2 separate regions of the Homo sapiens genome follow, and region 1 is linked to region 2. A link means that fine-mapping ties the variant in region 2 to the expression of a gene that starts in the linked region. Tissue or cell type: esophagus mucosa. Region 2 holds a variant in brackets; the other region holds the start of a gene. All regions are shown on one strand. Distances are between the middles of the regions.

Region 1 (4,214 bases), 39 kb after region 2:
TGGGGGAAGAGGTGAGGGTTGGAGCCCACAGATGGGGTGGGGTTAATGGGATTACTTGCCCAGTGGGCTGCAGACCCTGAACTCTCCAACAGTCCCGCACGTAAGCTGATCCAAGGACACACCCAACCTGGGCCTGGGGCAGCCCCCTAGACCCCCTGCTGGACACAAGCACCTTTATGCAGCCCGGTCCCAGAGCCCTGAGCTCAATAGTGCCTTTGTGGCTGCCCAGGCCGGCCATGGGGCGGGAGGGGGCACCCGGGGGCTGGCAGTGAGCAGGCAGCAGGCGGGCAGCAGGATACTGCGGGCAGGGAATTGGGGCCGGCAAGGGGGTTGGCCCCAGAAACAGAACTGCTAGATCCAGACGGAAGGCGGGAGGGATATGGAGGGAGGTACTGAGAAGGAAAGAAAAGATCCAGGACTAGGCGCCAGGAGGCTGCCCACCCCCATAGTCGTCCCGCCCCGGCTCCTCTCCCTCCCCTCACCCCCCAATTTGGCTGCCTCTCCTGGCCTGGCCCAGAGCCTGGGGCGCGGCACTGGCAGGCGCAAGGGGCGAGCCCTGTGCCAGGGCTGGAGAGGGACCCTTCCCCTAGGCTCTGTCCCCTGATCTGAATCGGAAGCTTCAGGCCCCAAGTTGACTGGGTTCTCCTAACCCATATGTAGCATGGGAGCAATGGGAGGAAGGTCCCCCTAAAGCCCATGGGCTTAGTGCCTTTAGGTCTGGGAAGGGAGAGCACAGGTAGGCAGTGGGATGAGGAGCAGAACTGGACTCACTCGAGAGCTGGAGCTCCCTATGTCCCCCTCCTCGCAGCTGTGGAGAAGTCCAGAAGTCTGACTGCTCCAGAAGGGGTTAGGGGGCCCTATTCTGCCACAACTGCCCTAAATCTTCTGGAGTTGGAGATGACCCTTGCCCAGCTCCTGGCTTCCCGCATCCCAGCCTCCTGGTCTGCAAATAGGTGGGGGACGGGAGGAGTGAGGGGATCAAGAGGACCAGGGTCATAACTGAGGATCTCAGGACTTAGGGGAGAGGAAGGGATTGCGGGTACCCACCAGCAGGAAACTGACCTGAACTGGCTCCCCTGCCTAACTTCCCATCCTATTTTCCACCTCTCAGGGTTGAGTATGGAGACTTTAAAGTGAGAATGTTCATACCCATGGGGGAGTCACCAGACACCACCTGCCTCAATCTCTCCTTCTGCAGCCCAGAGTCAGCCAGATCATTCAGGGCAAAGACAGCAGAGGTGTCTATAGACATTTGACTGGAAAAATACATGCTTCCCTTGATGCTGTCTCCCCCACCCTCTGTCTGTCATCCTAAGACCTCCAGAGTCCCATCCCAAGGTGCCACCGAGGGGGCTCCCAGCCGCACCTGCAGCTCACACCAGGCCACCTCCACTGTGGTGTCGGTGTCTAGCCCTCGATACACCGTCTTGAAGGAGCCACGTCCAATCTCGATGTCAAACTTGAGGTATCGGCCATCGGGGGACGTTGCCACAGCCTGGGTCTCCATGTCCTCCTTTTCTTCCTGCTCCCGCCGCCGCTCTAGGGCCACAGCTTCAGGGACCCTTAGCGGCTCCCTGGACCCCGGGCCCACTGCAGAGTCCGGGAGCTCGGGACGCGCGGAGTCTTCCGCAGCCTTCACAGGGGCTCCCTCGGTCCACGTGCCCTCGGGGGGTTCTTTGGAGCTAGGCGGTGGGCTCCTCGCGGGGCCAGGACCAGCGGAGTCCGGAGGATCGGGGGGGTCCGGAGCGGGTGAGGCTGGCAGGGACCAAGAGCTCAGCAGCCCCAAGTCGACTGAGCTACGGCGGCTGAGACGAGAAGAGCGCGGCCGGGGCTCAGCCTTCCCGGAGAAGCGGCGCGCTCGGCGAGGAGGGGGCCCGAGGCGGGGCTGCCCCGCGGTGCCAAGAGGAGGCGGGGGCCGCAGGGCCAGGTCGGCCTCAGTCTGGGACATGAGGACGGTGGTCTCCGTGGCCGGGGATGCCAACATGAGGAAGAGCAGGGCGCCGAAGGGTAGAAAATCAGACGGCCGGAGAGGAGGCGGCCTGACAGACGGACTCGCTGGGTGCGCTGCGCTCCGGCTGAGCGGCTGCGGCCCCAGCCCCCAGCTCGGCCTGGCCCCGCCCCCGTCGCCGCCCCGCGGCCCGCCCTTGCCCCCCAGGGCCGCCCCTCCGAGCTGCTCCCGCGGTGCGGATCCCGCGAGCAGCCCCTCACCTTAGTCACCGCCCCGCCCAGCCGCGTCCCCTTCTTTCCCGAGCCCCCGGCCGCAGTCTCACTCTGAGGCCAGAACTGAGTGGGAGACCGCGGAGCATCCTCCCGCACTAAGAGTGAGCAAACCTGTTTGTGCGCGGAGGAGGGCAGGAGAGAACGACACCCGGACCCTAGTGGGGGATTACTTAGGGGGAGGCTACCACCCTCCTGCACACCCCAGATAAGGCAGCACCACCCCCTCCTAACTGTCCGGAGTAGCCCCAGGCCGAACGGAGAGGTCAGTGGAAAGGTCTGACGTTGTTGTCCCTCTGGTCTGCATAGGGAATGGGTGTGTACTCCCCAGGATAAGTCCCTCCCCCAAACCGAGAGCCCGGTCATCCATCCCCTCCAGGCCACCTTGGCCGCAGCCTAACCCTGGCCAGAGTGGCTGTTTTTGCTATATGGGCTCTCCTTCCTCCCCTTCTGTTTGCCAGTCTCCAATAAACCAAAGTCCACATCCGGCTTACCCCCCTCAGCTCCCCTTGGCCACAGTTACCCCACCCAGACCAGATGGGTGGAGGGAGGGGCTTCAGAGTAGTTCAGGACTTCCATGAGGGAGATGGTGAGGGAAGGGGGAGCCCTTAAGTGACTCCAATTCAGAGAGAAAGCAGTCTGTCCCCAAGCTGTGTTCCATCAGCACTCCTCCACACAGCCCACCCAGCAGATGTAAAACCACAGGCTCACTGGAGCCCACAGGGCCCTGGAGGACCTTTTCTTCTACAAAAGCCATAAGCTTTCTTTTCTCTCCCCTCTCCCAGGCTGGGATTTACTCAGGTGGCAACACTTCACAGCCCTCCCCATCCCCATTCCAGTACTGTAGTAATTTAAGAGGCAGGCAGTGGGAGTTGAGATTTTAATATCATAAATCGGTGTGGGGCCACACCTCTCACTGCCAGGCCCGTGGGCCTCCTATCTTCATATTGCCTGGAAGGCTGCCTGCAGCCAGGGCTTCCCCCATCCCCTAGGAAGGATCCAGCACCAGCCTGAGAAGGGAGGCAACAGCAGCTAAAGGGGTGGGAGGAGGAGGAGACAGAAGCATGTGCTGCAGGCGCATGTGTGTATGTACTTACATGTGTGAACACATATAAAGTGTCAGGTTTACAGACCCTGGCTCAAGGACAGTCTAGGATGGGAAAGGAGGTAGGGCGAGAAGAAGCACATATTTTCTCCCTGGTGCTTCAGCCTCACCCTATCCAAGGGACAGACATATGGGGTGTGAGAAACCCATCCCCAGGTCCCAGCCTTCAGGACTGGAGTCCTTTTGAGTCTGGTGGAGTCACAGATCCAGTCTTTGGGGGACACTGGGTCTGTCTCCTTTTGAAAGCCCTGGAAAGGTGGGAGGTAAGAAGTAAAGGGAGACAGGTCCCTGCTAGAAGAACTTGACGCCTCGGCCATCGCTGACAGTGATGATCTCGGCCTTGTGCTCCTGCTGTAGGGCCTGCAGAGCCCGCAGTAGAGTGGCTTCATCCAGCCCGTGGAACTCTGAACAGGGAGAGATAGGCAGAGACAATCAGCTCCTGAGGCCCAAGGCCTCTGAGGAGAGTGCTCTGGCTGGAAGCCGAGACCTCCCAGAGGCAGGGTATGCATAAGCCATCTATACTGCTACAGCTGCCATCCACACTTCCCAGGCACTCCTTAGGAGTAAGGGGTGGAAGAAAGCCTGAATCAGCATGAAATGAGTTTGTGCTTATTTCCCCCTTCTTGGTTCTCCTCTCAGACTCAGCCTCCCCCACACCTAGCATTTGTGTCTGATGCACGAGAATGACACCATCTGCTTCAGGGCCACAAAGGGGCCGTGAAAATCAGGCCTAGGGAGATCGGAGCCATTGTCACTAGACACTGACCCTAGAGGATCTATCCTAACACAAAGAATATAGCCAGTACCCCTGGCCAGGAGACTGTTAAACTCCAGCACTATTATCTGCCCTTTTTCTAGCTTTTAGCTGGGAGCACAGGCCAGGCGCGGTGGC
Region 2 (4,000 bases):
CTCCTTGCTATTCTGGGGGAAACAGGATGTTTGCTTTTGTGATGGAAAATTTCAGAGTATATCATGAACTCCTGTGTACCCATCACCTAGTTGCAACAATTATCAACACATATTTAATCAAGTTTTGTCTACAGCCCCATCCATTCCTTCCCACTCTGAATTGTTTTGAAGCAAATCCCAAACATAAATACTGTAAATATTTCTGTATTTTTGACAGATAAGGATTCTTAAAGATAAATGATACCGGCCGGGCGCGGTGACTCAGCCTGTAATCCCAGCACTTTGGGTAGCTGAGACGGGTGGATCACGAGGTCAGGAGATCAAGACCTGGCCAACATGGTGAAACCCTGTCTCTACTAAAATACAAAAAAATTAGCTGGGCATGGTGGTGCACGCCTGTAGTCCCAGCTACTTGGGAGACTGAAGCAGGGGAATCACTCGAACCCGGGAGGCAGAGATTGCAGTGAGCCGAGATCGTGCCACTGCACCCCAGCCTGGCGACAGAGCAAGACTCCATCTTAAAGTAATAATAATAATAATAATAATGATACCATTATGCCTTAAAAAATTGAACATTTCTTTAATCTGATTTAATGGGGGTGAGGAAGACCACAGATTCTTTTGGTGTAAATGGTACTTTAAGAAAAATTGGAGGTGAGGGTGGTGATGAGAATATTTCACATTCTTTTCCCATACTTTCAGATGCCCTCCTGCTTTAATAAGACTGTTTCTGACCCAATATTTTCCTTGCCCTTAGCTCCATTACTTACCACAGCCCAGGCGAAACCAGGAGAGACCCAGGAGGAAGAGACTAACTCAGGAGAGGTAATAGAAGTGCCCTCTCCCCTATCCTCCTCATGTAGTAAACATTCCAAATGAGAGATATGATATGAAAACAGGAATGCAGGCTTGGTTTCTGCAGGCTACTTGGCGCTTCTAGAGCTCCCGGACTTTTGGGATCTCTGGGTAATGAGACATTCTACATGATCAGGCTGCTATGCACCATTGGAGGTACAGATCTGCACCTGAGGTCACAGGGTTACTGAATTAGTCATTTTAAAATGTTGGAAAGGGCTCTTTATTTGAAGCAGAATTATAAATTATTGTAGGTTGGAGATGGGATGACCTGTGTGTCCAGGTCGTTCTAGAGCATTGATTTGCATCTGTTGTTCTAGCTAGTTGTTAATATCCACTCCTTTCCATTCTCAAAAGCATCCTGGTTAGGACAGTGAATTGTATGATTGCCCTGGACAGAAAGAATTGTCAGTGTTAGAGAACATGTCATTTTAAGCTGTGATAATATCAGGGATCCTGTGGAGCAACATCCTGTGAGATACTATTGAATACACACCTGAGATTTCTTCTCAAGTAGCAAGGGAGCTGGAGTATTTATTTACCCACAGCTGCCAGTCACTGGGGGAGTGCTGATGTCAGGTTTAGTGGAGGTCATTAATTCTGGCCAGCGCCCCCTGCAGGCAGTGAAGAGTCCAGGAGCCAGAGAAGCCTTTAAGCAAGGAGGCAAAGGGGTCTGGCATTTGAAGTCAATAGATGCTGTGAGATTTTGGTCACATATGAGTAATCTCAAAATACTGAAAACATATAAATTTTCTACTTTGTACTGTGGCAGACTTCATTGCAGTCTGATCTGGCTTTTTCCTTGTACTATGATTTAGGGCATTCTGTCCTCTGCCCCTGACTGCTAAGTGTTGAGAAATGCAAATTTAACCATACATAGAGTGTAACATAGTTAGGAAATGCTGTTCCCCACAAAAAAAAAATCAAATGGGACTTAAGGTTTGTCTGTATCGTGGGTCCTTTCTTAGTCCACATACACAAGGATTGCTTC[G/A]ATAATACCCATTTTTTAAGTCTCTGTGGTTTATCAAGTCTTGTGGTTATCAAGACTAAAGCCATATAGTTCTGAGGCTGTTTGGGAGATGAACTCTACCTCTAAGCTGCCAGAGTTGTAATGCCCTCTTATTTCTTTCCCAGGAGCCATTTATTGAAACTCCTCGCCAGGATGGTGTCTCTCGCAGATTCATCCCCCCAGCCAGGTGCCTACTACTTCTCAGCCCCCATTCCTTGCCAAAGGCTAGTAGAATTTTAATTAAATCCAGGAATCGAGACCTGGAGCCAGGTGATAGAGATGCATCATCACCTAGCCTTTTGGCCCTTTCAGAAAAGATGTATTCCCTTATACCTGGCCCGTCACCTTCCAGTATGGATTTTTTCCTGTAGCTGTTCACAGAGTGGGAAAGGATAGTAGCTTTAATGATGAAGTATTGAAAAAAATTGAGGGAGTGATTGACCAATCACCAAGAGATGGGCTCTTGAGAAGTTTCAAACTAGCAAATGTTGTTAGATGTTCAGGTCCTTAGTTCTCATTGCTGCAGGTAAAGAGCTTGCTGGCAAGGGGTATAATATTTTCTAAAATGGCCTTTCCTGGTTCTCCCTTCTTTTCCACTGTAGACATATGAATTTTTTATGCTCCCTCTCCCTCCTTAGTCCACCAAGGCCAACCTTCATGCTGAGTGTCCCTGTGGAAGACCAGCATGGCCTTCCTTTGGGAGAGAGGTACCCTTGGGAGGTCAGTCGGGCTAGGAGTGGGTATGTTCCTTGAGGCCCCTCAGCTGGTGCTTGAGAGTCTCTGCCACTGGCATTGTAGTAGGTGGAGGAAGCCTCTCTGTTCCCTCATGTGGCCCGTGGGCGGGGGGCTGTCTGCAGGATGATGTCCACAGAAAGTGCCAACAGCTTCACTCTGATTGGGGAGGCATCTGATGGCGGCACCATGGAGAACCTCAGCCGAAGACTGAAGGCAAGTCGGCCCCATTCCGGTGGCAAGCAGTAGGCCTGGCTGGGAGAGTGGGTAATTGAGCAGGAAGCATGGGGGAGGCCCTACCCTGACTCTCCCACACTTCCAGGTCACTGGGGACCTTTTTGACATCATGTCGGGCCAGACAGATGTGGATCACCCACTCTGTGAGGAATGCACAGATACTCTTTTAGACCAGCTGGACACTCAGCTCAACGTCACTGAAAATGAGTGTCAGAACTACAAGTGAGTGTCTCCAGAGCCAGGGCTCAGAGCTGTTACTGCTCTGAGACTGCTTGGCCCTTACCCAAGAGCCGTACTCCACTCAGGCAAATGGAGCTCTAGTAAGTATAGTCTGCCTGTGTCTTTGGCAGACGCTGTTTGGAGATCTTAGAGCAAATGAATGAGGATGACAGTGAACAGTTACAGATGGAGCTAAAGGAGCTGGCACTAGAGGAGGAGAGGCTGATCCAGGAGCTGGAAGACGTGGAAAAGAACCGCAAGATAGTGGCAGAAAATCTCGAGAAGGTCCAGGCTGAGGCTGAGAGACTGGATCAGGAGGAAGCTCAGTGAGTGCTCACCCTGTTCTATCTTCTCACACTCGAGGCTCCAGGAGAGGAAATGGCTTCCAGCTGAATGTGTCTGAATAGTTTGTAAACTAGTCAGCTGTCAGTCAGCAGCATGCCTGCCCCAGATCCTGCATATTGCTTCCATGCCCTTTTTCTAGAGGTTTGTTGGGAGAGTTACCTATGAAGAGTCAGCATGATTAAGTGAAAAAAGTATGTTGGTTAAATAGTGCAGAAACCAGAGCTCCAGTCTTGGCTCTGTCCTGTAGGGAATGGGCTCATTTGGATGAATCAGCCACTTTCTAGCCATCCTTAGCTGAAAAGATGAGCTAATTAGCCTACATTTGTTCCCTCCAAGCTTAAACATTTCATGGGGGCCAGGTATGGTCGTTCATATCTGTAATTCCAGCACTTTGGGAGGCCAAGGCAGAAGGATCACTTAAAGCCAGGATTTAAGGCCATCTGGGGCAATATCAAGTGAGACCCCATCTCTACAAAAATGAAAATTAAAAAAAAATTAGGCTGCTGTGGTAGACCTGTAGTCCTAGCAACTACTTAGGAGGCTGAAGTGGAGGATAACTTGAGCCCAGGAGTTTGAGGTTACAGTGTGCTGTGATCACACCTC

Which allele goes with the higher level. Alleles are on the strand shown, and positions count from the first base shown. SD is a standard deviation of normalised expression in the study named.
In carriers of allele G in region 2, the expression in esophagus mucosa of the gene that starts at base 2,073 in region 1 tends to be lower than with A alone (small effect, 0.29 SD a copy in GTEx).

The links. PIP is the estimated chance that this variant, and not a neighbour inherited with it, causes the effect.
Region 1: WNK4 starts here. The variant in region 2 is fine-mapped to the expression of WNK4 in esophagus mucosa (GTEx, PIP above 0.99).

What each region holds. Positions count from the first base shown.
Region 1 is chr17:42,778,469-42,782,682 of GRCh38, reverse strand. WNK4 (WNK lysine deficient protein kinase 4) reads right to left here and starts at 2,073. Exons shown (of 19, transcript NM_032387.5): 1 at 1,367-2,073. The coding sequence starts at 1,984. VPS25 (vacuolar protein sorting 25 homolog) reads right to left here. Exons shown (of 6, transcript NM_032353.4): 6 at 3,084-3,726. The coding sequence ends at 3,614. RefSeq lists an enhancer at 1,043-2,000.
Region 2 is chr17:42,817,599-42,821,598 of GRCh38, reverse strand. It overlaps BECN1 (beclin 1), which reads left to right. Exons shown (of 12, transcript NM_001313998.2): 3 at 758-825; 4 at 1,990-2,051; 5 at 2,722-2,812; 6 at 2,919-3,055; 7 at 3,184-3,378. Among named protein-coding and RNA genes, the nearest start is that of MIR6781, 4.3 kb to the left of the region's middle. RefSeq lists a silencer at 1,500-1,549 and an enhancer at 2,620-3,819. The variant G/A (reference allele first, on the strand shown) is at 1,847.